7 linked regions of the Homo sapiens genome follow. The protein of the gene in region 5 purifies or fractionates together with the protein of the main gene of each other region. This does not show direct contact. Each region holds a gene or a part of one and is shown on either strand. Other genes may lie near its edges. The genes, in order: THOC2, ANKRD28, SGK1, MPG, MOB1A, DEGS1 and CRLF3.

Region 1 (4,101 bases), on a different chromosome or scaffold from region 5:
CTCTGGAGTAGTAGCTGGAGTCTTTTCTTTTTTCTCTTTTTCTTTCTCTTTCCCTTTTTCTTTGTCATTTTCTTTAACAGCTTTGTTGCTTAAGAATAAAAACATGGGATTTTAACACAAATAATCATAAAATATATCCTTTGATATATGATAAAATATATCATAAAGGGTTTCTTACTAACTTCAAAAATACTAGAACTAAGGGGGAGTCCTTTGAAAACTAAAGGACAACTTTAAGACAAGGAAAAAGGAAGAAGTAATGGTCGGGTGCAGTGGCTCACGCCTGTAATCCCAGCACTCTGGGAGGCTGAGGAGGGTGGATCACTTGAGGTCAGGAGTTCGAGACCAGCCTGGTCAACATGGTGAAACCCCGTCTCTACTAAAAATACAAAAAACTTAGCTGCGCATGGTGGCGGGCACCTGTAATCCCAGCTACTCTGGAGGCTGAGGCAAGAGAATCACTTGAACCTGGGAGGCAGAGGTTGCAGTGAGCCAAAATCACACCACTGCACTCCAGCCTGGGTGACAGAGCAAGACTCCTTCTCGAAAAAAGGAAGTATTTCTTTATCCAGTAAATCATAAACAAATTCATTAATTGCAGATTTAAAAGATGTATTAGCCGGGCACGGTGGCTCACACCTATAATCCAGCACTTTGGGAGGCCAAAGCAGGCAAATCACGTGAGGCCAGGAGTTTGAGACCAGCCTGGTCAACATGGCAAAACCCTGTCTCTACTAAAAACACACAAAAAATTAGCCGGGAGTGGTGGCACACGCTTGTAATCCCAGCTACTAGGGAGGCTGAAGCACAAGAATCGCTTCAACCCACAGCAATCCCTCTATCCTAAAATATTTGTTTAACTTCACACCTACATTCCCCTGAATATCCCAGAAGGAGAAACAAAGTCGTTATACAAGCATAACTATACAAAACATAATTAGGATGTAAAGCGTATCAGCAAAATAGGGTACATACAAAATTTCAAAGCCCAACATAAATGACTTTTCACATTACTCAACAACCACTCCCCTTCTACTCATGAGGACTCATAGAAGAATTTAGAATTATGAGGGCCAGGTGCAGTGGCTCATGCCTCTAATTCCAGCAGTGTGGAAAGCCAAGGCAGGTGGATCGCTTGAGGCCAGAAGTTCGAGACCAGCCTGGGCAACATTGCAAGACCAACCCCGTCTCAAAAAAATACATAAAAATCATTTTTAAAAAGAATTTAGAATTATGACACATGGCACAGTGTTCCTACCTGTTAGAGCCACTATTTCCATTGCTTGAATTCCCTTTAGGTGTGGTACTAGAAGCTTTATTAACAGCTTTCACACCACACTGAGATCTCTCCCTTGATTTATCTGAAATAAAAGTAAGGTTTTATTTAACAAGCCCCTAAATGTAAATAAGCTACAATTTCAGAGCAAAATGATTAGAGAATAATTAGAAAGAAACAGCAAGCTGATTACTTCTTAACGCTTATATACTCCTATCTAGGGAATAAAAAGTAATACTAAGCCAGCATTGTACTCGTTCTGTGATACAAAACATTTCACTTTGTTGAAATAAAATATATTACTTATAAGTTTCTACAAATAAGCATACCAGTCTCCTCAGTACTGCTTTCATCCGATTTAGATGCACTTCCTATTGATGATGAAGAAGGCCCACCACCAGGCCCATTTTGCACACTGGCAACTGCATTCCTCGGAGGGGGGTCTTTGTGATGAAACTCATTTTCAGGTATCATGTATGACTTTCTACTTTTCAACTGCCCAGAGTAGCTGAAAGTCGCACAAAGTGTTTAAATATACAAACACAAATCAAAAAACATAAACATGAGGTTTTTAAGAATAAAATTAGCAAGTTATTCATTCTACTATGTGGTTCTAGAGAATTAAAAAATACCAATTTTTAATAAGTTCTTGAAGGTTTTTATAGAACGCCCAGCTTTCTTAAAAATTACAATTTCACTATAAACTAATCCTTAAACTAAGATGGCTTTTTTTTTTTACTCTTGAAGATCTGTTAACTATGATGATAAAATTATATTTCCTCCCAATCAAGAAATATTATACATGACTTTAAAAAAACTATCATCCAGTATAGACCGGAAGTTGATAATCAGAAGTGGTAACTCTCACCAGCCTGTGGAAACATGATCGCATAATCTCCCATAATCTCCTGAAGGCAGAAGATAAACTTCAACACTGTAAAACATTTTAAAGTCTTCAGAATCCTTCTGTCATCTAGTCTTGTAAATCACATTAAAATATAATTTTGTTACCCCATAGCCAATGCATATAGATCTGGCCTCTTCTCTTTTTCTTCTTGGCAGATTTTGTGTACTCTTCTTTCCAAAGCTTGACCCAGATTCAAAACTTTTGGGTACCAAGGAAGTATTTTTGTTAGCACAATCAAGATATTCCTGATGTGAGTATATTCGCCTGTTTCAAGGCAATGTACCGATGCCTACAACAAACATTTTCAGATCCATTATTATAAAAGCACAAGTATACAGAGAAAAATTTGCCTTTGAAAAATCCAATTTTTTTTTTACCTTGGTTAGTTTGTAATGCCATTTATGTACAACATGTCGAAAATTTTCATAGTCTAATTGATCAGCCTTATTTCCACCATCAAATCCAGTTGCCCGTAATATGGTAAGGAATCCTGGATAGTTTCCACATTCCTAAGGAAACAATGTTTGTCACTTTTAAAGAAAAATTATGATCCACAAAATAGCAGAAATTGAAACTTAAGTAGACTAGATCAATGTTTCCGTGTAAAAACATCATGCGTATTTGGATAGGTAGTCACAAAAAGTTCAACTTATACAAAGATACTAATTTGGAATGTCAGTTTGAGATAGAATAAAAAAGTACATAGCACATTTTAATAACAAATTAATTGTGCTTATAAACACAGTTTTACAACTGAATCTTAAACTCAGCTTCTCTTTTAAAACTCAACTATCTAGATATTAATGGATGTGGTCATTATATACATGGGTAAAATATAAGGGTTTTTATTAGTCATACCTTTTCATATGTGGCTCTATCACTATGCCACCTGGTCACAGTCTCTAACATGCAGCAAAGAAACCTTCCGTATCGACTGGCTTCATTTTCAGTACAGCTTGCAACTGTGTAAATTATGTCAGAGAAAACCTACAGGAGAAAAATGTTTAAAAAATATAAACAAATCAAGGTCAAAATCAGTTAAAAATATTAGAAGATTCTCTTACAGCAAGTCATAATAAACAGGTAAGCCTAGTCAAAATGTATATTCCCTTTATATAATGACACTGCAGAGAACTTTGGAGATTTTGGCTTTTGTGGGGAAATAATGCATTCATAAAACAACCACCCAAAACAAGAACTTTTATAAAGAAAGCTGATTTACAGTGACAAGGAAAAAAAAATTTATCATTATTATTACATAATAAGTTGTTTTTTTTTTATTACATAATAGTTTCTTAACCACTTAGCCATACATATTACTGGGTTTACGGGGAGAGTAAGCAGAGGAAATGCTGATAGAAATTAAAAATATGCAGCTGACATACTGGAACATACATTATGTTTTTTGTTTTGTTTTGTTTTGTTTTGAGACTGAGTCTTACTCTGTCACCCAGGCTGGAGGGCCGTGGTGTGATCTAGGCTCACTGCAAGCTCCGCGTCTCAGGTTCACACCATTCTCCTGCCTCAGCCTCCTGAGTAGCTGGGACTACAGGCACCCACCACCACACCCGGCTAATTTTTTTGTATTTTTTTTTTTAGTAGAGACGGGGTTTCACCATGTTAGCCAGGATGGTCTCGATCTCCTGACCTTGTGATCCACCCGCCTCGGCCTCCCGAAGTACTGGGATTACAGGCATGAGCCACCGCACCCGGCCACATTATGTTTTTAAACCACAAAATGTAGTAATAAGAAAAAAGCTAAATGCAAAATGTGCATATGACCATACTGAAAAGCTTCCCTGCTTTTATATGTGTGTGAAGGTGTAAACTTTTTTGTCTTTTTTTTTTTTTTTGAGAAGTGAAGGTTAAGAATGGAGAAGAGAGTTCTACCTATTATGATACAACACGTAAACTCAAA
Region 2 (4,101 bases), on a different chromosome or scaffold from region 5:
CACAATGCAATGGACTAAAAGCATTTCCTTCCGTTTTCTGGAAAACTTCCTGTTCTAAAAGCAGTTCTACACATGTCTCGTGACCTAAATAGGTGTAAAGAACCAGGTATTAAAATTCAAAGGAGATACTGGCAAAAATCACAGGTACATGTAAGTGTTTAAAGGAAAAATGTAAAAGTCTCTCCCTCATCCCATCTCCCAGATCCCCTCTCTGGAATATAACCATTGGTAGCTGTTAAGCCACCAGTAGTTCCTGAAAATTTCTAGGCATATACAACTGCACGCACAAAATACATACAGTTGGCTCTCTGTATCCGTGGGTTCTGCATCCATCAATTCAACCAACCCCAAATTAAAAATATTTGGGGGAAAAAAAAAACAGAGCAGACTTTTTTTCTTGTCATATACCCTAAATACAGCATACCAATTATTTACATAACATTTACATTACATTGGTTATTATAAGTAATCCAGAGATGATTTAAAGTATAGCAGAGAATGTGCATAGGTTATATGCAAATACTATCCCATTTTCTATAAGGGACTTGAGCGCCTGTTGGTTTTGGTATTCACAAGGGGTCCTGGAAACCAATCCTCAACAGCAAACGAGAAATGACTGTGCTATTTTTTTATTTTTTTCTTAATGGCAATGGGATGTTTAATTCCGCAACTTGCCTTTTACTTAATATTAACTACACATATCCTTCCATAATAGCATATATGAAATATTATTATTATTATTTTAGATGGAGTCTCACTCTGTTGCCCAGCCTGGAGTGCAGTGGCGCGATCTTGGCTCACTGCAACCTCTGCCTCCTGGGTTCAAGTGATTCTCCTGTCTCAGCCTCCCAAGTAGCTGGACTACAGGCGCCCACCACCATGCCCAGCTAGCTTTTTTCGTATTTTTAGTAGACACGGGGTTTCACCATGTTGGTCAGGCTGATCTCAAACTCCTGATCTCAGGTGATCCACCTGCCTCAGTCTCCCAAAGTGCTGGGATTACAGGTGTGAGCCACCATGCCCGGCTAAAATCTTATTCTTTAATGTTCTGAAGAGCTTCACAGTATCAAAGTATATCATAAATTATTTAATCTAATTATGGATTTTAAAGTGATTGCTAGTTTAAAAAAATTCTTCATGATATTATCAACAACGCTGTAATGAAACATTCTGGTATTTTTTTATTTTATTAAAACAATTTTTTGAGACAGGGTCTTGCTCTGTTGCCCAAGTTGAAGTGCAGTGGCATGATCATGACTCTCTGCAGTCTCAACCTCCTGGGCTCAAGTGATCCTCCCACCTCAGCCTCCTGAGTTGCTAAGACAACAGGTGCAAGGCTACCACACCTGGCTAATTTTTTGATATTTTGTAGAGATGAAGTTTTGCCATGTTGCTCAGGCTGGTCTTGAATCCCAGAGCTCAAGTGATCTGCCTGCCTCAGCCTCCTAAAATGCTGGGATTACAGGCATAAGCCACCACGGCCAACATTTTGTTTTTATTTTAGGAAGTATTTTTGTAGGACAATTTCCTACCAAAGTGATATTGCTGTGGTAAAGGAGAAGTATCCAGCCTTGGTATTCTTGGGGGATTGGGTCCAGGACTCCCCACTGACAGCAAAACTCCATAGTCCCTTATACAGGTCCCTTGTACAAAATGGTTTATTTGTGTATAACCTATGCACATCTTCTCATATACTTTAAGTCATCTCTAGATTACTTACAACTTAATTCAATGTAAATGCTATATAAATAGTTGTTGTATTGTTTAGGGAATAATGACAAAAAAAAAGTCTGTACATGTTCAGCCTAACTATATTTCTGATGGACATTCAGTTGAATTCACCGATGGGGGACCCATGGATATGGAGGGCTGACTGTATTGACTGTTCATCAATATCTGGTCCATAGTTTTTAACAGTAACTTCAAAAACAGAAAAATCCAAATTTCAAATTTTCTTACCCTAATTCCAGAGCCAGGGTTTTAATTTAATACCCTAATTACTACAAATAAAATGTTGCTTATTTTATTTCATTAGTCATTTGGGATCTACTTTAGGAATAAGATTCTTACATGGCCTCTTTATACATTTTCATGGTTTAATATTTGCCTACCAAAGTGATGTTATATTTTCTTTTCTTTTTAAATTACTCAAACTTAATCAGCTTAAACTTTACCCTATAATTGTGGAAAAGTAATTTTTAGAAAAACCTGTAATTGTGTTCCATCTTTTGTCAGTTCTTTTCTCTAATCTAGTAGTTTTCAAGTGGATTTTGCCCATCAGCAGATATTGTATGTGGCAATGCCTACAGACATTTTTGTTTATCACAACTGAAGGTGGGGCAGTGCAACTGGCATCTAGTGGGTAGAAACCAATGATGCTGCTAAACATCTTGCAATGCACTGGAGAGTCCCTTGCAACAATCATCTGGCCCAAAACGTCATAGTGCTGAGGTTGAGAAACTCCTTTAATGCCATCGTTCTGAATGTTAACTCATTACTAAGATACAGCAATGGAAAGTTGTCCATTGTTGACTTAAGAGCCCCTCATTCTCCAGGTATATGGGTTCTTAAGGTGTGGCCTAGGGAACCCTGGGGTGACGCAAAAAAAATATGAATAAAAACACAGATGAGAACCCAACTATTCTCTTAAATTAGCTATGAAGAGATGTACTACTCTTCTCACTAAAAAGAAAATACTTTTGGAAAATAGTTTTCATAAAAAAAGATTATTTATGTTAACATGTAATAGACATTATTTTTAAATAAATCAGTAAGTATTTAAAAATTTCTCAATTACAATTTCTAATACAGTCAGTATCAATCCATAGTTCCTGAGACCAAAGGGTTTGAGAACCACTCACCATCTGAGTACAGACTGAGAAAAGGGAACAGTGGGGCCCCTTTGTGACCTCCAGAAATCATTACTGGGTGATATCAAGCAGACAATCTCATAACTTTCTATCATCATTTATGAAAGATAGATAGGATGGTAAACTGGGTCCTCCTGAGTTTCAGAGGCTAGTCTGAGGATGTTTAGAGCTTCATAAAAATGAACACATTTTTTAAAGGAATAATAAGTATTCTTAAGTTCTGTGATTGAATGACTATATAAACTGAAATTGTGAACTTTTAGTATCTACAGCCAGTGTTTTTCTAAAACTTGGCCATCATTTCATTTTAATTTTAAGAGGTTGTTTTCTGTTCTGTTGGCATGCTTCCACTTTTCTTTCCAGCTGTACAATAATTACTAGTTAAAGTAAAAACCATTTTACATATTCTACTTTCAGAATGCCAAATTATAAAACGGGCTTTTGGCTATAAATATGGTATTAATTTTAGGCTGTCTATATAGTCGCTTATTGCATATAGCCAACACACATTAAATTCCTTCCAGCTCAAATTCAGCATCACCACAATTTTGCTACAGGCTGAAAATCAGACACATTTGTTATGATCTTTAAATGGCAACCAGGCATGCAGTTCTTGCAAAATTCTGTCTCTTGCACAAAACGTGCTTAGAGTCTAAATTTAGCAGTGATAGAGTAGGAACTCACTTTAGGGAAAATGTTCTACATATAGATCTGATAACAAACACTGTAATAGAAAGCAACTCTCCAAAGGACAGTTACAGCAGTACATTTACAACTAAATGCTCTTCCTGAGGAAAAATATCTCACTGTGTGATTTTTCCAATGGTTAATCTTCAGGGATATATTTTTTTAAAAACCAAGCAGTAAGTCTTTGCTTCTGAACAGTTTTATCTCACTGACTTTTTTACAGAAACACAACTCACAATTGTAGATATTTTCCCACTATATTAGATATTTTGGGTTTTCCTTATACTTGTAAAATGTCAAGTCACATTACAGAAACAAATCAAACATCAATGGCAAAATACAGTATCTTCTTTGTTCTAGTATGAGTACTAGTCTCTGGCCACTTCACTACACTCATTTCTACTTGCCTTAGCGAGTAGAAATGGGAAAAAGAGAAGTTAAACCCCAAAGGTTTTATAGTTTTCAAAACTGTTTTGGTTAAGGATTTAAGGTAGTAAAAAACAAAGAGACTAAACTAGCTTGTTCAATGAGCAACAGATTTAAC
Region 3 (3,780 bases), on a different chromosome or scaffold from region 5:
CTGGGTCAACTCCAGGTACTCTCAGAAACCAGATGTCCCAGCCAGGTCAGCTTTTTGGGAACATATCCACTTATTTAAAACATTCTCCCCAGCACTTAGGGAAGCCGAGGCAGACAGATCACTTGAGGCCAGGGATTCGAGACCAGCCTGGCCCACATGGTGAAATCCCATCTCTACTAAAATACAAAAATTAGCCAGGCATGGTGGTGCATGCCTGTAGTCCCAGCTACTCAGGAGGCTGAGATGGGGGGATCACATGAACCCAGGAGGCGGAGGCTGCAGTGAACCAAGATCACACCACTGCACTCCAGCCTGGGCGACAGAGTAAGACCGTGTCTCAAAAAAAAAAAAAAAAAAAAAAAAAATTCTCACCCTCTTGTGTGGCATTCTCCTAAACTTCACAGACTATTTCTCAATTTCCATCTCAACTAACTGCTTTAGGTCGGCCTTCTTCATCAGGCTCTGGAAGGGCGAAGTTGTCTGCTTTGTCCACTACGATATCCTGAGCACTCGCAATAGAGCCCAGAGTAGGCTTTCAAATATTTCTGGAAAGAATTACCTGTAACTGAAGACAAGCCAAATGTCAGGACAAATAGTCCAACTTCACAGGACAGGCAATAAATACAGGAAGCATTACTTCATAGCAATCCTTGCAAGATGAGTAAATTGCAAAGGATTTCCTTGGATGGATTTATGAATGACAGACACCATAAAATGCTGCTAAAAAGGCCTGGAACGTAGGTTGGCTTTAAGACCATCCTATACTCCCCTGGAGTCAGAAACCACTGCTGTTGGGAGCAAACCACTAAGCAGGAAATTACAGCAGGATTTTCATGGTTTTCAATTTTAAACTAACCCATGATTACCCCCTTAACCAAAATATACAAAATAACACATGACACAATATATGTAAATATTTTTCAAGGTTTTATTGCAAACCAAAATCAGTTTATCACACACAAAAAAAGTTGTGTGATGGGATGAGGGAAGGATTGTACGTATTATAACCATGTTAATTACAGTACATTAAAATGGTGGTTTACATTACAAATAAGCCTGTAAGTTTAAATATACTAGTGTTATAACCCAATGTACAGACGTTCTTTATACAATACATACAATTATCAGGAATGCAAAAAAAAAAACATAAATAATGCCCATTTTACAGGTGACATTTTAAACAATGAAAAACACCAACGGCTCTGACTGACAACTGGGGCATTGGTCCATAAAAACCCTTTCTAAAAATAGAAATATTTGTAGCAGCAATGCTTTCTTTAAGCATCTGAATACGAGTCATTGCAAGACCATTTCAATAAATTTTAGTTATTAACCGTATCTTACAAAAAAGTCTACACATAAATTTATCTTCCAAATATGGAAGAAACAAACAATGTCCCACGTTGTAGTGTCCTGCAAGTGTCACATTGATGCTTATAACAAAATCCATCTGTGATCAGGCATACCACACTCACACGACGGTTCACACAGCATATCCACAAGGGAAAATAAAGAACTGAAACACTGCGATAGGAAAAGCTTTGGAGCTAACACAATCTCTTCAGAAAAGGCACATTTCATAATATTCGTCATCACAGCCCAGACAGATCTGCAGGAGACCTTTTTTAGAACAGCGTCCGCTTTCTAACGAAACTCCTGCCTCCGTCTAAGGCGGCACTCTAACGCTCGTTTCAGAGATAGCACCACGTTGGAAGGAAGAATAAAAATGAAAACCTCATGAGCTCACTGAGGAGAATGTGCTCTTCAAAAAGCTTCCAGCGAACAGTGTGCAATAAGATTGCTAAGCTTCCAGAGATGTGCAAATTCTCTTGTAAGATGTCCTGTCAGCTGGCGGCTCCACCAAAAGGCTAACTAAAACATTCGGAAACACACATAAAATCCTTTAAAACCAAGCCCTAACAGGGTTCAGAGGAAAGAGTCCGTGGGAGGCGCATAGGAAAAGCCTAGGAAAGCCTCGGCAGCTTCCTTGACGCTGGCTGTGACGAGGACGCTGTCAGGGGACTTGCCAATGGAGTTGGGGACAGGCTCTTCGGTAAACTCGGGGTCAAAGTGCCGTAGGTCGTTGGGCCCACTCTGTGACGGGAAGGGAAAAACACTCTTGTCAAGAACTCACACTAGACACAGGACAGGGAAATCTTGACCAGGCTTTAAATACCAAGTTTAAGTCTTATATCAACTTCCATAATCACCCACTTCAAGCACAAAATCTCAAAAGGCTACACACAGTTAAACATAAGAATAATGTTCACTTGTTGCCTTTTGGTGCTTCGAATTGATAAATGTGTCTAAAAATTATGGGAGCCTTGTTGGGACACAAAAATGTGCTTTTTATGTAGGTAAAATAACAGGTTTATGGAGAAAACATCTGCCAATGTATTCCTTCCAACCCTCCCCCAGACAATTCTGAATTAAAATAAATGCCCTTTGGGCTTCTCTATACTTAGAAGAGAGACAGATACTCACCACATTTGGGTTAAAAGGGGGAGTAATCTTCTTATTAATGAGATCATCCCAGTTAATTAAGGAGAAGAAGACATGACTCTTAATCTCCATCTGTTGATAAGAAACCCAAGATTAATTTAGACAGGTGCATTCAATAAGGGCAGGGAGGTCTAGTGCACGTCCCGGCCGGCCCAGGAGGACAGGAAAACATCACTCACGAAGTCATCCTTGGCCCCGAGCCGCTTTGTCCTGTCCTTCTGCAGGAGGCCCTCCAGGAGGTGTCTTGCGGAATTTGTAATATTTGGTTTCAGCTGGAGAGGCTTGTTCAGAATGTTGTCGTACATTTCAGCTGTGTTTCGGCTATAAAAAGGCGGCTGAAAGAAGGGGAAAATTACTTTAGACTTAATTGGAAGTTTCATATGGCACACATTACCAGTAGAGAAAAAGATATAAACGGCAATAAATATTAGGCTCGATTTGAGAAACTCTCCCCACCTCAATGCTTTCTTTTCCCTTGCTATTTAAGTGTCTACTTTGCAACCCGTGTGTGTGTTTGTGTGTGTGTGTGTGGAGGGTGAGGGGGTAGATGTTAATAAGTGGTAGTTTTTCACCACCACACAGGTTCAATGTGGTCCTATCTAGTAAAATGTGAAATGCACAAAAGAACCAGGTAAGTGATTATTCTTATGAACTATAAAATAACCAATATGCCTCTTAGCTGCTTTTGATAAGCGTACTGGTAAGGGCAAGACACCATGGCCAAGCATGGGCTGTGTGAAGGCAATATTGTAGGGAGCAGGCAGTGTTCCATGGTTCCCAATGTGCCACTCACCAGGCCATACAGCATCTCATACAAGACAGCTCCCAGGCACCACCAGTCCACAGTCCTGTCATAAGGCTGCTTATGAAGCACCTCAGGTGCGAGATACTGAAAAACAGACCAGGGAAACAGCGTTTAGAACCTGCGAAAGCAAGCAATCCCACGACCACACATTTAGTTTGAAAAAGCTGAGAGACCCAGAGCCAGCTTGGAAGATAGATATCTTTAGATTCCTTCCTGATAAAACTGCTGGACTTTTTGAGGGTGACTGGCTACCTATGTGTACTGACATTTAGGAAACTGCTGGGCACTTGATATCTCTTACTTAGGGATTTAGAAAGTTTTTATGATGCAGATCTTACTTACAAACAGCTACTTTTCAGTAAAGGAACAGAAGGACTTGGGATTTCTCATGCTACATCAAACAGCAAATGTATTTTATTTGCACTGAACTGTATTAAGAAGTCTCTGAGAGGAGTTTACTCTTTTTGGTAGTT
Region 4 (4,586 bases), on a different chromosome or scaffold from region 5:
CAGAGAGTGGCCTGGGATTTCATGGCAACTCACTGCAGTGACCCTTTTAGGGATGAGTGCATGACCCAAGCCTGGCTGAGGGGTCTGCAAGGGCATCCACTAGGAGGTTATGGAGAGGGCAGAGGGCTGTCCCTGATCCAAGGGACACAGGGTGAGACACCCTCTTCTCTGCTGGACATCATCTTGTCCACCAATGGGCTCAAGTGGGCATGACTGTGGCCTGACAAGGATGCTGAATAGAGACAAACGTATTGTGGTCCCTGATGCCATGCTGCGCCCTTGCCCTGTTCCTACGACGCACCTGCCACACGTGCTGTTTTGTTGTATCACAAATGCCCATTGTATTTTTTTTTTATTTTTGAGACGGAGTCTCGCCCTGTCGCCCAGGCCGGAGTGCAATGGCGTGATCTCAGCTCTCTGCAACCTCTGCCTCCCGGGTTCAAGTGATTCTCCTGCCTCAGCCTCCCAAGTAGCTGAGATTAGAGGCGCCCGTCATCACACCCAGCTAATTTTTGTATTTTTAGTAGAGATGGGGTTTCACCATGTTGGTCAGGCTGGTCTCAAACTCCTGACCTCGTGATCCACCCACCTCCGCCTCCCAAAGTGCTGGGATTACCGGCATGAGCCACCACACCTGGCCACAAATGCCCATTACTTAAGGTGCTTTTAGAAGGATCCGCATGGGGACAGAATGTTCTCTGTTCTCCATGAGGTCGAGCCCACATTCTAGGGTCTGCTCCTTTAGCACCCAACTCCTGGCACTGGTATTTCTCTTCTGGTTCTTCTTGGTGATTATAACCTAAAAGTAGGCTCATTAAAGGACAAAGGGAAGGCCTTGGAGCCTCTGGAGAACCAGAAAGGCAGGCCTGGGGCTTTGGCATCGAGGACCACCGCCACCACCTCGCTCCCAACAGATCCAGCCAAGATGCCACGGCTGTGTGAGCATCTGCTCGTGGGGACAGGCTGCACCGTAGGCCCCACCAGGATGGGACCTGGGCAGTCCCTGCTTCTTACTCCAAGTCTGATTGGCAGAGCCCAGATCCTTGACCTACATTAAGCTGCAGGGGCCCTGGGAAGCCAGCACTGCACTGTGAGCCACTACAGCGGGAAGGGGCAGCCCGACACTGGCCACAGCCACAGTTCCCACGTGTGGAAAAACTGAGGTGGATTGCCGGTGAGGAAGGCTAACGGTGCAAGTGCTCCTGCCCTAGATGCCCAGAGCCGGGGGCAGACAGTGGCACCCCTGCTCCACCCTGGGCAAGCAGCACTGACAATCTCTACATTCTTCCCAGATGACCTCAGGCAACTGAGATGAAGCTAAGCAGGGACCAGTGTGAGCAAAGCCGCTAAATGCATGAGGACAAGGAGGACTAACTGAGGGCCAATCCAGCAGGCAGCGGACAGGGGTTCAGGGACAACTGCAGTGACAGGCACTTCAGGAGGGCCCTCGCTGCTATGTTCACATTACCTGTCCCAGAAATGCCCGGGCCAGGGGGACTGCCGGCTGGTCGAAGAACTCCAACCCCAGTCGGGTAAGGTGGCCCTTTGGGCTTGAGAAATAGATGCTGCGGTATGGGCCCGGAGTGGTGGGCGGTCCCAAGCAGCGCTCCCTGGGGCAAGGTGCCTGGGCTGCATCGGACGAGCTGTGTGGCTGCTCTGCAGGTGCCTGGGCTGCGTCGGACGAGCTGTGTGGCTGCCCTGCTCTAGCTGGTCGCTGCTTCTTTTGCCCCATCCGTCGGCAAAACTGTAATGGGAAAAAAAATAAATAAGCATCCGAATAGGAGACAGCTGTGTGGTAAGGTCAGGCTCAGGAAGTGCAAGGACTGGATCTGACCACCTGCTTTGGTTTCTTCATCTGCAAAGCGGGGGTGACCATCCTGTGGGTTGTTATGAGGCACAAACACCCTGACACACTCGAGGCCTCAGGAAATGATCACGTCTGACGATGGACGGCTGCTGCTGGGGGCAGGGTGGCTGCTCTGCCCCACATATGTGCGAGCTGCACGGCATGGGGGCCCAGGCTGCATGACCTGGGGAGCAGATGGGGGCCTGAGCCTGGGACAGCAGGGCTGGTGCCCTCCGATTCCCACTCATCATGCAGGTCCCAAGCAAACGTCTGAGCTGGTTTCTGGAGCCCTGCCCTTTCATCCAACCCTTGCCAGAATTCAAAACACAGGATCTTAGCAGGGCCAAGGTCGGACACACAGGGAGGGGTGAGCACCGGGGTGACCACCGCGTGCTCAGGGTCCCTAACTGTCCTCTGCTTCATGGCCCAGGCTGGATAACGAGCAAGTGGGGCAAAGGCAAGGTCTCCTGAGGGACTAGGAGGGTCTGCTGAGACCGAGCAGGCCGCCAGCCTCCCACCTCTGGCCTCCCCATGGGTAGGGGGAACCTAACCACACATCCTCGGCTGTCCTGGGGCAAAGGAGAAGGGAAGATGAAGGTGGCGGGTGAGCGCCGGCCTGGCAGCACCCGGAGGGCTGGTCTTTAGCAGCACCTAAGTCCTCCTGGCATGGGAGAGATGCATTATTTTTAACGGGAGTGCTGACGTTAATGTAGAACGGAGACTGCCAGTCGGCCTGGAACGGACGCTGACGTGACCGTCTCCGCAGCTCGGCCCGCGCTGCCAGCGCGCCGTGGGTTCAGCCCCCGGGCGCTGCGGCCACTGCTCTCGGCCCGAGCTTGGCCCTTGGCCTATGCTCTGGCTCTGCCCCGAACCCTCGGGGCGGTGGGCGCTACGCCCGTCCCCGGCACTCCCGCTCCCGCGGCCGCGCTCGCTGCTGCGCCTGGGGGTGGGCGCGTCTGTTCCGCGGGGCGGCCGAGGCGCGCGCTCACCTGGGCCCCGCTGCGCGCGGGCATCCGGCGGCTCGGGCCGGGGCTTCGTGGGACTCGGACCCCGGCGCGGAGCCCAGCAGCCGCCGACCACGGAAGCACCCCTAGGACCGGGGCGGAGCGGCGCCTGCGCAGAAGGGGACGGAAGCCGGGAGAAGGGGGGCAGTGAGCGCCGGGAACTGGCTGCGCCCCCGGGGCGGGGCGGGCCACGTGGAGGTGGATCCTCTTCCCAGCGCCCACCGCCAGGTCCGGACCGATTCCCGGGCCCGATGCGGTGCCTGCGAGGCGAGAGCGGGGAAGGGGCACCTGGGGGTGGGGCGAGCCCCGCACTGTGCCCCGGCGCCCCTCCCAATGAGCTGTCCGCCCCCGCCTGCGCCCTGGTCGCCTGGCGGCCCCAGAGCCCACTCCACCAGCCGGTGGTCAGACCACCGAGAGGACGGGCCCGTCGTGAACCTGAGTGGATCCTCGAGGGGCCCGGGCGGAGTGGTCGTGCTTTGGGGGAGGGGGCGGGCCGCAGACGTGTTTTCCGGTGGGGTGCCAGCGGAGTGAGCGCCTGGGAGGCCGCCCCAGCCCTGGTCCGGAGTGGGCCGGGGAGTCCTTATCCAGGAAGTGGACGCCAGGCTTGTGCGGAGGCCCCCGCCCCTGGCCGGGGTTGTCACAGGCTGGTCGGGGGAAGGAAGGAGGGAGCGGCGCGGATTCTGCCTCTGCAGCAGAGCCCCCATCCCTCTTTCCGCCCAGGGATGCTGAAGGGAGCTCGCCCACGTTCTGGGTTGGGCCTGCTGGAGCGCAGGCAGCCTCCTCTAGAGGCCGAGGCCAGACCAGGGCTGAACACGGCCCGGCAGTGCGCAGCCGTCCTACGCTTCTGAGGCCTCCCCGACGGCCCAGCGCCTGTAAGCTCTCACAACCTCTCAAGTCAGATCCATGCCCCTAGGGAGGGGCAGGGACGGTGCTTGGCCCAGTGGACGGAAGGGCCTAGGGGACGGGCCCTGAGGGAGCTGGGCACACTGCTGGCTCCCACGGCCCATGGCAGCCCCAGCACCCAGCAGAGCCATCCCCCGCTTCTGGCCACTTGAAGGTTTATCTGGGTCTGCAGGGCCCCTCCACTGTGGCAGGCACAATCCCACCCCACAACCCACCTCTGCCGCACAAAAACCCTCGAGGGGCTTTTCCTGAGCTTTGACTTCTGTGACCCTGGTCCTGGAAAGGAGCACCTGAAAAGGCCTTGAAGAGCAACTGGGCACCTGGCCGCGTCAGGTGGGAGACGCTGGGCAGGACAGACGCACAGGCCATGTGTCTGGAGCCCTCAGATGAGTGTGACACCTGGTCCTACAGAAAGGCTAACAGGGCAGGACCTGGTCTCCAACTGCCTCTCCTCCTCTGACCAGCCGTCCCACCCCCATGGGCCCCAGCCAGGACTTCCTGGGGAGGGAGGGGCCATCAGCCGGCTGGAAGCCACCAGCTGTTTGTAGCACTGTGTGCCGCTTCCCGGGGTGGGGGCATAATGTGTCATCAATCCGTGTTTATAAAGCAGCCCTGGATGTGATTCCACACCCTCCCTGCTTATCTGCAGCCATGCCTCCCAAACAATGAGTCTCTCCTTCCTGTGGGAACAGCCCCCCATCCCCCCGAGTGCTCCCCCTCAGTCTAGTAGGGAAACTGAGGCCCCAGTTGAGCCTTTGTCCTCTTGATGGGCAGGGAGAGGATGGGTGTTACTTTGTACTTATATTTATTCTGATGTTACAAGTGATACATGG
Region 5 (4,101 bases):
GAGGCCAAGGCAGGAGGATCACTTGAGGCCAGGAGTTTGAGACCAACCTGGACAACACAGCAAACCCCCCCAACTCTATTTATATTAATAAAATAAAATTTTAAAAAAAGAAAGAATACTTCGACAATGTTAACTCACCAATCTTAGAAGGAAAAAGAGTTTCATCATCAAGCTGATCTTGAACCCAAGTCATCAAATAGTCAATGTATTTTGGTGCAGAACATTTGATTGGCTTTTTAATATTAGTACCATCTGCCCAGTGATATTCATATCTGAAGAGAAAAATGTTTTACTGATAAATTTTTCAAAAATATTAACAAATGTGCAAGTTGTGATTAAAACAGGTTCATTCACATTTTGTCAATAGAAGTTACATCTAACTTTAATAAATCACCTTAAGTTCTACTGAAGATTACTGTGAGTTCCCTATGTAATTATCCAGAAAGTGACAGTTATAACTGGAAGAAAAAAGGGAGATAATGTGGCAGGAGGCAATGCCAGGATAGATGTTTTATTAACAACACAGCCCTGGGAAACACAAAGGAACTGCATTCCTGTAAAGCAGAAGGTTGCTGAGGGCTGGGCATGGAGCCGATGGATCCACTACATTCTTCTGAGATTCTTGGTCATCAATTTATTATCATCAATGGACCCAAGATTATAAAACTCTGTTTTGGGGGCCAGGTGTTAGAGATATACATTAGGCATGCATACTTTCCCCCCTTACCTTTGCCGAGCTAGAAGGATTAACAAGAGTTATACAAAACATCACTGTGTAAAGCATTTGAGCCATAGGTAAGTTTAATTTTCCTGTTTATTTTCATTTCTTTTAAAGCTTGAATAATAAAACTTAACACAATATAAAATAAAAACATTCTTCCTAAAATATTATAATAAAAATAGAACTACAAACTCATTAGGGATCTTTTTTCCTTTACACTTGTAGCAAAGTCAGAAAGGACAATCTTTTCTAAGAAGCAAACATCTTGATAACATCTATCATCACATAAAATCAGTCATTTATTATAAGAAAAAAAAAAGAAACTGGAAGGAAACACAGCAAACATTAATCCCATCATATGATGGACTTAATATTATGAGTGATAGAGTTCCATCTTTTTCAGTATTTCTTGAAATTTATTAAAGTCAAAATGTTTTTAAATCTAGCATCTTCAAGCCAGATAATTACTTCTAAATTGTGCTGCTTTAAATACTAAATAAGCACAAGAAAAAATAATCAAATATTAAAAGATCAACTAAAAACTCTTCCAAGAAATTCATTTAAAAACTAGAAACAGGAAACATAAATGTTATTAATAAAATTGAAAAAATAAAATGTTTGCAATTCAAGACAAATGTAACTCAAATTTCTGTTTATTCCTATAATAAAACATTCAGACTTACTATGATGCAACATAAAAATGAAAACAGGGAGTACCCACATACTAAAGTATTTAATAATAACTAATAGCTGGCCAGGTGCAGTGGCTCACACCTTTAATCCCAGCACTTTGCGAGGCCGAGGTGGGCAGATCACTTGAGGCCAGGAGTTTGAGACCAGCCCTGGGGAACATGGCAAAACCCCATTTCTACTAAAAATGCACAAATTAGCTGGGAGTGGTGGCACAGGCCTGTAATCCCAGCCACTCGGGAGGCTGAGGCATGAGAACCGCTTGAACCCGGAAGGCAGAGGTTGTTAGTGAGCCAGGATCACACACTGCAATCCAGCCTGGCAACAGAGCGAGACTCTGTCTCAAAATAAATAAAATTTTAAAATTACACAATAACTAAAAGCTTACAGGTGAGTAGTCAAGAACCAATAAAACTGAATCACCTTCACACAAACGGATAACAAATCTTAACTGTTTAATTTCTATCAATTGGTGATAAAGTAAAACTAATCCAAACACCTATATAATAGGCAGTATATGTACCTCGGACCTGCAGACATGACTGGACAGCTTGCTTCAGTGCAGAATTCTGTAATAGTTCCATATAACATGTTGATCTGGTTAAAGAAATCCACAGCTGCAGAGATAATAGAATTGTGTCAAAATGTCTGTGTAAACACAAAATATGAGACCTCCAGTTGAAGGAAAAACAGACAATACATTTAGGTTCTTAGCTGAACCCTTGAGACATTCAATAATCCAATGATACTGTAACTTGTAGTATACTACACTTTTTTTTTTCTCTGAAACAGTCTTGTTCTGTTGCCCAGGCTGGTGCAATCTTGGCTCACTGCAACCTCCGCTTCCCGGGTTCAAGCAATTCTCCTGCCTCAGCCTCCCAAGTAGTTCGGATTACAGGTGCATGCCACCACGCCCAGCTAATTTTGTTTTGGTATTTTTAGTAGAGACAGGGTTTCACCATGTTGGCCAGGCTGGTCTTGAACTCCTGACCTCATGATCCACTCGCATGTAACAGCAGGAAAATAAGATACTGGAGATAATTCTAACTTAACGATGACTATTATATCCTTTGGATATACAATATGATTACATCCAAGGGAATGAAAAATCCATAGTTTACCACTTTGGACCAGATAATACCATTTGTGTTAGGAAAGAGACAAAACATGTTGTGGAATATACTGTGAGGGAGAAGGTGCACCAGCTGTATCCAGAGGCATTTAAAAGATCTAATTAATCATAAACATTTGTTTTTGAGGTCTACAGCATACTGAGGACAAAATACTTCAGATAAAGTCCCCTGCCCTGGAGTCTCTAGCTAACAGAAAGGACAAAATTAAAAGAGATGAATAATATAAGATATGGCCAGGCATGGTGGCTCATGCCTGTAATCCCAGCACTTTGGGAAGCTGAGGTAGAAGGACTGGTTGAGCCCAGGAATTCAAGACCAGCCTAGGCAACAGAGTGAGATTCCATCTCTACAAAAATTTTTAAAAAATTAGCCAGGCGTGGTGGTGCACACCTACAGTCCCAGCTATGTAGGAGGCTGAGGCGAGAGGACTGCTTGAGCCCAGGAGGCTGAGGTTGCCGTGAGCTGTGATGGTGCTACTGCACTCCAGCCTGGGTGACAGAGACACTGTCTCAAAATAAAAATAGCAATAATAGTACAAGATATAAGAAGACAGGATCCAAAGGCCAACGATAAATGCTACAGAGAAAAGGCAAAGTCATGAAGAGTTGGAAGTAGTCAGGGGGTACTTCCTGAGGGAGCTTCAGCTAGATCCAGAATAAAATGGAAGAGGCAGGGGGTGAGTAAATAAACTTTACTGAGTGAGTATACTCTATGCAAAGAGAACCACATAAGCCTTGGAAAGTTTCAAAAAATGTTTTAGGCTAGGTGCAGTGGCTCACGCCTATAATCACAGCACTTTAAGAGGCCAGGATTTGAGACCAGTCTGGGCAACACAGCTAGACCCCGGTCTCTATTGAAAATTTTAAAAAATTAGTTAGCCATGGTGGCACACGCCTGTAGTCCCAGCTACTCAGGACGCTGAAGTGGAAGGATCCCTTGAGACTAGGAGTTCAAGGTTGCAGAGAGCTGTGAGGGTACCACTGCAGTCCAGCCTGGACAACCCTGTCTCGAAAAAATAAATAAATAAAAAGTTTTAGTCTCCTGTCTAAAGAAGTACCTAAAAACAACTAGGTATTTTCCAAGTTTCTTAAAAAACAAATAGATTTTTTTAAAATGCTATCTTGTAAAAGGAATTTTATACAAAACTCCCTCACTTATAAATCTTCCTCTTAGTCATGTTTCTAAGAAAGTAACACTTAGGTATTCAATATTCACTCAAAACAAAAAATATGCCCAGGTGGAAGTTGGTTTGGTCTAGAAGAGCTATTCTCAAAACGTGGTCCAGGAATCCCCTATCTGAGGGAGGATCTGTAAGGTCAAACCATTTTAATTGTTCTTTTCACTCTTACTCTCTCAAGAGGGCACAATGGTGTTTTCCAGAGGCTCCATGATGTGTAATATCACAACAGACTGAATACAGAAACGGATATAAGAATCCAGGTGTCTATTAAGCCAGACATTAAATAAGATTTGCAAAAATATAAAACAATGCCATACTTCTCACTAAAATTTGTTATGGAAAATAGTCATTTTTCGTAAAAACATATTTATGGTAAC
Region 6 (4,101 bases), on a different chromosome or scaffold from region 5:
ACAGAAGAACCAGCCCTCAAAATCGGTAGGAATATCTACATCGACGCCATCAGCTCCAAGGTACCGATGATGATCCATGTGATACCTCTTAAAGGAAATTGAATATGGAATCCCAATAGGAAGATTAGCAAACATTCCAAACCAGCGATTCCACATTGCTTTGCAGTTGCCAAAGGCAGCATTGTGGGCAATCTCATGAATAGCCAGAGTCATTGAGTGGTTAATGCAACTGCCAAACGCATAGGCCCCAAATATGACCCATTTCCAGTCCAAGTCTTTTACTATGTAAAATGCACCCAACTGGGTGAGAACCATCATAATTATAATCCATATCAAATTGGGATCAGGTTTCATCAAGGACTTTATCTCTGGATACTTTGCTGTAAAGAAAAAACAAAAAAACAGGAACTAAGAAAAGTATGTAATAGTTCACCAATTATAATTAAATTAACACCAATTAAACTAACACATTAAATTTGTTCTGTAAATCATATTCCCTTTACTAGAGACTTTAGTGGATATTTAATAACACAGGGAAGGATTCTACTAGTAAAGTTATGAAATATCATGTCACAATAATTTGAGAATTTATGCAGGAAAAATTAGCCTCAAAGTTTAGAAGTTCCACATTCTTTATATTAAAATACATGTTATTTCTGTGTTTAGACAGAGGTACAGCATTCTTACCTTATATAAAACGATTAAATTAACACATCTGACAAAGGATAGAATATAATATACATTTTGTAGTTACCCTAAAATCATGAAACTGGTATTCACAGTTTTCTCAGACAAATCAACATGCTCCAAGTAATTCTGTACTGAATTTTCCCAAAATTGTAATAGTATATAAAAACCAATACTACAGGCTACCAATATAATCAGGGAAAGAACAGTCCTTTCAACAAATGGTGCTAGACCGACTTGTTATCAACAGGCAAAAGAATGGATTCAGACCCCTACCTTACACCATACACAAAAATGAACTCAAAACAGATCACAGACCCAAATTTATAAGAAAATTATAAAACTCTGATAAGAAAACATAGAAATAAATCTTCATGGCCTTTGTGGTTTCTTAGATACTATAACAAGTACAAGTGACAAAAGAAAACAGAGAAATCGGACAGCATCAAAAACTTTCTGTTGCACATGATACTGTCAAGAAAGTAAAAAGACAATCCACAGAAGCGGGGTTATGTTTGCAAATCATGTATCTCATAAGGGACCTATATCCAGAATATATGAAGAACTCTTACAACTAATAATCCAATTAAAAAATGGGCAAAGGATCTGAACCCACTTTTCTCCAAAAGATACGGAAACAGTCAAGAAACACATGAAAGAGGCTCAACACCGTTAGTCATTAGGAAAGTGCAAACTGAAACCATAGATACCACCTCACACTCACTAGGATGACTATAATAAAAAAAGGTAGGTAAAAACAAGGATGTGGAGAAATTAGAACCCTCATACTTTGCTAGTGGGAATATAAAATGGTGCAGCTGCTTTGGAAAACTGTACAGCAGTTCCTCAAAATGTTAAACACCTGGTATATCCATACAAAGGAATATTATTCAGCCAGAAAAAGGAATCATACACTGACATATGCTATAACATGAATGAACCTTAAAATATTATTTTATTGAAATATTATTTTATTGAAAATATATTATTTTAATGAACCTTAAAATATTTAGAGACAGGGTCTACCTCTGTCACTCAGGCTGAAGTACAGTGATGCCATCATAGCTCACTACAGCCTCAAACTCCTGGACTCAAGTGATCCTCCTGCCTCAGTCACCCTAGTAGCTGGGACTACAGGAGCATGCCACTGTGCCCAGCTAAAATATTATGCTAATGGCTGGGTGCAGTGGCTCACACCTATAATGCCAGCACTCTGAGAGGCCAAGGCAGGAGGATCACTTGAGCCCAGGAATTCAAGATCAGCCTGGGCAACATAACAGGACCCTGTCTCTACAAATTAAAAAAAAAAAAAAATTTATATTATGCTAAGTAAAAGCCAATCATAAAAGATCAGGTATTTTATGATTTCATGTATATGAAATGTCCAGAATAAGCAAATCTATAGGCCACAAAGTAGATTAGTGGTTACCTAGGTAGAAGCAGGGGATATGAGGGACTGCTAATGAGTATAGGGTTTCTTTTGGTGATGATGAAATGTTCTAAGGTTATATGGTGGTGACAGCTGCACAACTCTGTGAATATACTAAAAAATACTGAACTGTACACTTTAAATGAATAAATCATGATAGTTGAATTATAATCTCAATAAAGCTATTGGCCAGGTGCTGTGGCTCACACCATTAATCCAGCACTTTGGGAGGCTGAGGCACAAAGACTGCCTGAGGCCCAGTGTTCAAGACCAGCCTGGGCAAACAGATTCTATTTCTACCAAAAATAAAAAAAATTAGCCAGGTGAGGTGGCACAAGCCTGTAGTCCCAGCTACTTAGGATGCTGAAGCGGGAGCATCACTTGAGCCCAAGAATTTATGATCACACCACTGCACTCCAGCCTGGGCAACACAGTGAGACTCTCTCTCAAAAAATAAAACATTAAAAAGCTGTATCATGTTAAAGTATAACAGTGAAGGAACCATTTCTTGTGATTTATTCTTTTTTTTTTTTGAGACGGAGTCTCGCTCTGTTGCCCAGGCTGGAGTGCAATGGTGAGATCTCAGCTCACTGCACCCTCTGCCTCCTGGGTTCAAGCAATTCTCCTGCCTCAGCCTTCCCAGTAGCTGGGATTACAGGCGCCCACCACCACACCCAGCTAATTTTTGTATTTTTAGTAGAGACGGGGTTTCACCATGTTGGCCAGACTGGTCTTGAACTCCTGACCTCAGGTGACCTGTCCACCTCAGCCACCCAAGGGCTGGGATTACAGCCATGAGCCACCCAGCCCAGCTCATCCTCACGAATTTCAAACAGATGCCTTGTAAATGAACTTTTAATGTGAACTCTAAATGTAAACTTAAAGTGTACAATTGTTGGTTGTTCTATCAGGCCCCTTCCCTCCCCCGCCAAAAAGTCAATACTTTCAGAAAGATCTCTTATCATTTGTGTATAATTTAAACAAATCTAAAGATTCTTTCTACAGGTTATTCCATCTCCCACCCTGAAACAGAACATGAGTTAGTATTTACACCTGCATGGAAAACATTGTACACTGTATTTTCATTGAGAAATATGTAGTCCTTCTTTTTTTTTTTTTTTTTTTTTTGAGACGGAGGCTCACTCTGTCGCCCAGGCTGGAGTGCAGTGGCACCATCTCAGCTCACTGCAAGCTCTGCCTCCCGGGTTCACGCCATTCTCCTGCCTCGGCCTCCTGAGTAGTTGGGACTACAGGTGGCTGCCGCCACGCCCGGCTAATTTTTTGTATTTTTAGTAGAGATGGGGTTTCACCGTGTTAGCCAGGATGGTCTCGATCTCCTGACCTCATGATCCGCCCACCTTAGCCTCCTAAAGTGCTGGGATTACAGGCGTGAGCCACCATGCCCGGCCAAGAAATATGTGGTCCTTTTACTTTCCCAGTGAAATGGTTCAGTGATAAGTCTGTGGGGGGAAAAAAGGCTCAGTGTGAGGTAAGTATCAATCAGCACCTTCTCACTTCCTTCATCTCTTTTTCTTGAGACAGTCTCACTCTGTTGCCCAGGCTGGAACGCGGTGGGGCAATCACGGCTCACTGCAGCCTCTACCTCCCCAGCTCAAGCAATCCTCCCACCTCAGCCTTCTGTGTAGCTGGGACCACAGGCACATGCCACCATGTCCCGCTAATTAAATTTTTTTTTTTTTGGTAGAGATGGGGTTTTGCCATGTTGCCCAGGTTGGCCTCGAACTCCTGAGTTCAAGTGTTCCTCTCGCCTCAGCCTTCTGAGTAGCGGGACAGGCATGCACGCCTAGCTAATTTTTTAATTTCTCGTGCAGATGGGGCTGTTCTGAACTGGCCTCAAGCGATCTTCTTGCCTCAGCTTCTCAAAGTGCTCGGATTACAGGCAAAAAAAAGCCACCACACCCGTCCTGATTTTCAGAATATTAAGTAGCTCAGTTTCAGTATTCCAGAGTTGGTTTTTACACAGG
Region 7 (4,101 bases), on a different chromosome or scaffold from region 5:
ACTCTGAAGAACTGATGAAAACAAAAATCACATGAGGTAATCTGAGTAAAAGACATGGTGCATGTTGTTCTTATCAATTCAGGATCTATGCTTAGAATAGCTGGTTGTCAGTGTGCTGCCCTTAGCACAGAATACAGGTATTCTAATATATAGTTAGGCTTCAGGAGAGAAAAGGTTAGCAGCATACCATGAGGCACCAATGTGGAATGACCTATCTGGGGGACACTCCAAGGACTCCACTCCTGTCGGCCATCTCCTCGGGCGCAGACTCTGAACTGGTAATCAACGTTGGGGTCTATGTGCAATACTATGAATTCAGTTTCAGAACCTACATATACATCCTCAAAATGATTTGAAGTACATTTACGAAACTGGAGCCTGTAATCTTGGGCTGTAAAGTCATCATCCACCTAGGGAGAAAAGCTTTATGTTAGGTAAAAAACAGAAAATGACTTCTCTCAGCATCACTGCTTAAAAATTTTGAACGGAGCCATTTTGGACCAAGCAGACAGGCCCACATGCTGAATATGGGGTATTCTTGGGAAGGCCATAGAAAATATGCCATCACATCATTATCTCCCTTCTTTTTTTTTTGAGAAAGGGTCTCACTTTGTCACCCAGGCTGTAGTGCAGTGGCGTGATCTCGGCTTATTGCAGCCTCCACACCCCGGGTTCAAGCCATCCTCTTCCTTCCACCCCACAAGTAGCTGGGATTTCAGGTGCACACCACCATGTCCGGCTAATTTTTTGTATTTTTTGTAGAGACTGGGCTTCACCATATCTCAGATCTTTAACTCCTGAGCTCAAGCAATCTTCTCGTCTCAGCCTCTCAAAGTGCTAGGACTATAGGCGTGAGACACTGCGCCTGGGCTCCCTTCTTTTCTTTATTGAACCATGTGTTCTGTATTTCCCAGTCTGATATAAAAAAGTCTGCCTCCTTTGAAGAAATGGCATGTTTTTTAATCAATGCCAAAGATAAAACATTCAAGATTCAGTAAGTCTCCCACAACCATACATCATTCATAATAACCAAGAGATAATTAACATACAGTATACAGAACCCCCATTAATTTTTAGGGGTCCTGCATATATTCTGTATGTTAATTAGCCACCCAATAGAAAAATGGGTAAAAGACATAAATAAGCGTTCTACAGGAGAAGAAACATAAATAGCCAAAAATGTATATTATGAATATTCAACCTAATTTGTACCTAATTTGTAATATGGCAAATACGATCTAAAACCACAACAAGGCCAGACATGATGGCTCATGCCTATAATCCTAACACTTTGAGAGGCCGAAGCGGGTGGAGCACTTGAGCCCAGGAATTTGAGGCCAGCCTAGGCAACACAGCAAAACCCCATCTCTACAAAAAATTACAAAACTTAGCTGGCTGTGGAAGCACATGCCTGAAGTCCCAATTACTTGGGGGCTGAGGCGGGAGGATCACTTGAGCCCAGGAGATTGAGACTGGAGACATGATTGTGCCACTGTACTCCAGCCTGGGTGACAGAGTGAGACCCTGTCTCAAAAACAAACAAATAAATAAAACCACAACAAGGTACATTTAGGCAAAAATATAAAGTCTCACAATGCCAATTATTGGTCAAGATATGGAATAACAGAAACTCATATACTCCTTGGAAGGCTAAATTGATAGAATCATCTTGTGGAAAGTTTGTTATTACCTATCAGCGTATGGATCCAATACTCTAAGAAGACCTCATAATTTTACACCTAGGTAAATATTAATATTTTACAAACTTCACATATGTCCATAAAGAAACACAAGTAAAAATACTTATAGCAAAAAACTGGAAATAACTAGGTCCACTGATAGGAAAAATAATAAAAATGGAATGACAGTCCTGTTAGAAAATAACAACAGCATGTTTATAAAAAAAGAAAAAAAAATTTCCTTTTAATAAAATCTCAGCTGGGCACAGTGGCTCACACCTGTAATCCCAGCACTTTGGGAGGCCGAGGTGGGCAGATCACCTGAGGTCGGGAGTTTGAGACCAACCTGACCAACATGGAGAAACTCTGTCTCTACTAAAAATACAAAAATACTAAAAATACAAACTTAGCCAGGTGTGGTGGCGCATGCCTTAATCCCAGCTACTTGGGAGGCTGAGGCAGGAGGATTGCTTGAACCCGGGAGACGGAGGTTGTGGTGAGCCAAGATCGTGCCATTGTATTCCAGCCTGAACAACAACAACGAAACTCTGTCTCAAAAAAAAAAAAAAAGAAAATGTCAGCCAGGCGGAGTGGCTCACACCTGTAATCCCAGCACTTTGGGAGGCCAAGGTGGGCAGATCACCTGAGGTCGGAGGTTGCATCGCTGCACTCCAGCCTGGGCGACACAGCAAGGCTTCATTTAAAAAAAAAAGGCCAGGCACGGCGGCTCACACCTATAATCCCAGCACTTTGGGTGGCCGAGGCGAGTGGGTCACCTGAGGTCAGGAGTTCAAGAACAGCCTGGCCAACATGGTGAAACCTCGTCTCTACAAAAAATACAAAAATTAGGCAGGTGTGATGGCAGGTGCCTATAATCCCAGCTACTCAGGAGGCCGAAGCAGGAGAATGGCTTGAACCCGGGGGAAGCGGCAGGCGGGGGAGGGCATGGAGGTTGCAGTAAGCCGAGATCACGCCACTTCACTCCAGCCTCGGTGAAAGAGCAAAACTCTGTCTCAAAAAATAAATAAATAAAATAAAAATAAAACTGGAAGAGCTACCTCAGTGTTCCATGTGACTTCATTTTAACTGTAAAGTAAAAGAGATTTTTGTTTGAGAAGAAAAGAATGTATTTAAAAGTAGTCAACGAAAAAATCTGAAAGGCCTCCAAATCGCAAACCCATAATGTGGAAGTCATTTCTAGAATTCTGAATTACATACCTTACACCATCGTACAATGATGCCTCCAGGTTTCTCTATTAGTTCTTCTATCTGTACTGGTGGGCGAGATGCTACTGTTCCATGCTTAAAAATGTGGTCTTTCACTATGTTAAGAATTGAGTCATCCAACTGAGCAGATAAACAAGGCACATCAACCAGTAAAGGTACTTCTGGTAAGCTGAGGAAACAAAGCTCATGTGTTATGAGACCTCTAACTGAGAGTTAAAAAATACAAGAAATATTTTAGAGCAGTCACATGCTTGAAAGATCCTGAAGCCCCCAGTAATTAATTCTCATGGCAGTAGGGGATTTGCAAGATGTTACACAAAGATTCTCTTTTCAAATAAATATAAGTAAGACAGAAAATTGGTAGGATCATAACTGTCCAGTTTAAGCCAAAAGATCTGGTTTACTGGAATATGACTCCATTTCAACAATACATTGATAATTTCTAAAATTTAACAATTCTTTTATATATTGGATTGAAAAAATGTGTAGTAATACTATACCAAGGATTATAATCACAACTATTTCATTAGTAACAGTGGTAATGGGCAGTGAAACGCTTTTTTTTTTTTTTTTCAGACAGAGTCTCACTCTGTCCCCTAGGCTGGAGTGCTGTGGTGCGATCTCAGCTCACTGCAACCTCCACCTCCCCGATTCAAGCGACTCTCTTGCCTCAGCCTCTCGAGTAGCTGGGACTTACAGGCGCACGCCACCATGCCCGGATAATTTTTTATTTTATTTTATACTTATTTTGAGATGGAGTCTTGCTGTTGCCCAGGCTGGAGTGTAGTGGTACAAACTTGGCTCACTGCAACATCTGCCTCCTGGGTTCAAGCAATTCTCCTGTCTCAGCCTCCCCAAGTAGCTGGATTACAGGTCCATGCCCGTCTAATTTTTATATTTTTAGTAGAGACAGGGTTTCAACATGTTGGCCAGGCTGGTCTCAAACTCCTGGCCTCAAGCAATCCACCCGCCTTGGCCTCCCAACGTGCTGGGATTACAGGTGTAAACCACCACGCATGGTCTGAAAACCTTGAAATATATATTCTCTATCTCCCTTAATGAGAATCTTGAACAGAGGGAGGAAAAAAGCAGACATAGTTTAAATGCTTAAAAGTAAGTCAAAAAGGCACAAACTCTTTTACCTGTCCAACTGAATGTGCGAGGCCTTTTTGGTAAAGCTCCACAGTTTCTCATT

The links.
Region 1: the proteins of MOB1A (region 5) and THOC2 purify together in Homo sapiens (affinity purification with mass spectrometry; one large-scale study listed by BioGRID and IntAct). This does not show direct contact.
Region 2: the proteins of MOB1A (region 5) and ANKRD28 purify together in Homo sapiens (affinity purification with mass spectrometry; one large-scale study listed by BioGRID and IntAct). This does not show direct contact.
Region 3: the proteins of MOB1A (region 5) and SGK1 purify together in Homo sapiens (co-immunoprecipitation; one large-scale study listed by IntAct). This does not show direct contact.
Region 4: the proteins of MOB1A (region 5) and MPG purify together in Homo sapiens (co-immunoprecipitation; one large-scale study listed by IntAct). This does not show direct contact.
Region 6: the proteins of MOB1A (region 5) and DEGS1 purify together in Homo sapiens (co-immunoprecipitation; one large-scale study listed by IntAct). This does not show direct contact.
Region 7: the proteins of MOB1A (region 5) and CRLF3 purify together in Homo sapiens (affinity purification with mass spectrometry; one large-scale study listed by BioGRID and IntAct). This does not show direct contact.

What each region holds. Positions count from the first base shown.
Region 1 is NC_000023.11:123,621,500-123,625,600, forward strand, and holds part of THOC2 (THO complex subunit 2), read right to left. Parts: intron 3,171-4,101; coding exon 3,042-3,170; intron 2,693-3,041; coding exon 2,561-2,692; intron 2,473-2,560; coding exon 2,288-2,472; intron 2,211-2,287; coding exon of another isoform or gene 2,145-2,210; intron 1,785-2,144; coding exon 1,606-1,784; intron 1,362-1,605; coding exon 1,259-1,361; intron 89-1,258; coding exon 1-88. UniProt on the Homo sapiens protein: Component of the THO subcomplex of the TREX complex which is thought to couple mRNA transcription, processing and nuclear export, and which specifically associates with spliced mRNA and not with unspliced pre-mRNA.
Region 2 is NC_000003.12:15,679,480-15,683,580, forward strand, and holds part of ANKRD28 (serine/threonine-protein phosphatase 6 regulatory ankyrin repeat subunit A), read right to left. Parts: intron 85-4,101; coding exon 1-84. UniProt on the Homo sapiens protein: Regulatory subunit of protein phosphatase 6 (PP6) that may be involved in the recognition of phosphoprotein substrates. Involved in the PP6-mediated dephosphorylation of NFKBIE opposing its degradation in response to TNF-alpha.
Region 3 is NC_000006.12:134,168,342-134,172,121, forward strand, and holds the end of SGK1 (serine/threonine-protein kinase Sgk1), read right to left. Parts: intron 3,392-3,780; coding exon 3,296-3,391; intron 2,838-3,295; coding exon 2,682-2,837; intron 2,575-2,681; coding exon 2,485-2,574; intron 2,095-2,484; coding exon 1,927-2,094; 3' UTR 915-1,926; downstream 1-914. UniProt on the Homo sapiens protein: Serine/threonine-protein kinase which is involved in the regulation of a wide variety of ion channels, membrane transporters, cellular enzymes, transcription factors, neuronal excitability, cell growth, proliferation, survival, migration and apoptosis.
Region 4 is NC_000016.10:76,583-81,168, reverse strand, and holds the start of MPG (DNA-3-methyladenine glycosylase), read right to left. Parts: upstream 2,945-4,586; 5' UTR 2,860-2,944; coding exon 2,836-2,859; intron 2,031-2,835; exon of another isoform or gene 1,877-2,030; coding exon of another isoform or gene 1,838-1,876; intron 1,745-1,837; coding exon 1,469-1,744; intron 1-1,468. UniProt on the Homo sapiens protein: Hydrolysis of the deoxyribose N-glycosidic bond to excise 3-methyladenine, and 7-methylguanine from the damaged DNA polymer formed by alkylation lesions.
Region 5 is NC_000002.12:74,165,080-74,169,180, forward strand, and holds part of MOB1A (MOB kinase activator 1A), read right to left. Parts: intron 2,029-4,101; coding exon 1,935-2,028; intron 273-1,934; coding exon 139-272; intron 1-138. UniProt on the Homo sapiens protein: Activator of LATS1/2 in the Hippo signaling pathway which plays a pivotal role in organ size control and tumor suppression by restricting proliferation and promoting apoptosis.
Region 6 is NC_000001.11:224,185,856-224,189,956, reverse strand, and holds part of DEGS1 (sphingolipid delta(4)-desaturase DES1), read right to left. Parts: intron 381-4,101; coding exon 1-380. UniProt on the Homo sapiens protein: Has sphingolipid-delta-4-desaturase activity. Converts D-erythro-sphinganine to D-erythro-sphingosine (E-sphing-4-enine). Catalyzes the equilibrium isomerization of retinols.
Region 7 is NC_000017.11:30,793,263-30,797,363, forward strand, and holds part of CRLF3 (cytokine receptor-like factor 3), read right to left. Parts: coding exon 4,049-4,101; intron 3,076-4,048; coding exon 2,898-3,075; intron 411-2,897; coding exon 188-410; intron 1-187. UniProt on the Homo sapiens protein: May play a role in the negative regulation of cell cycle progression.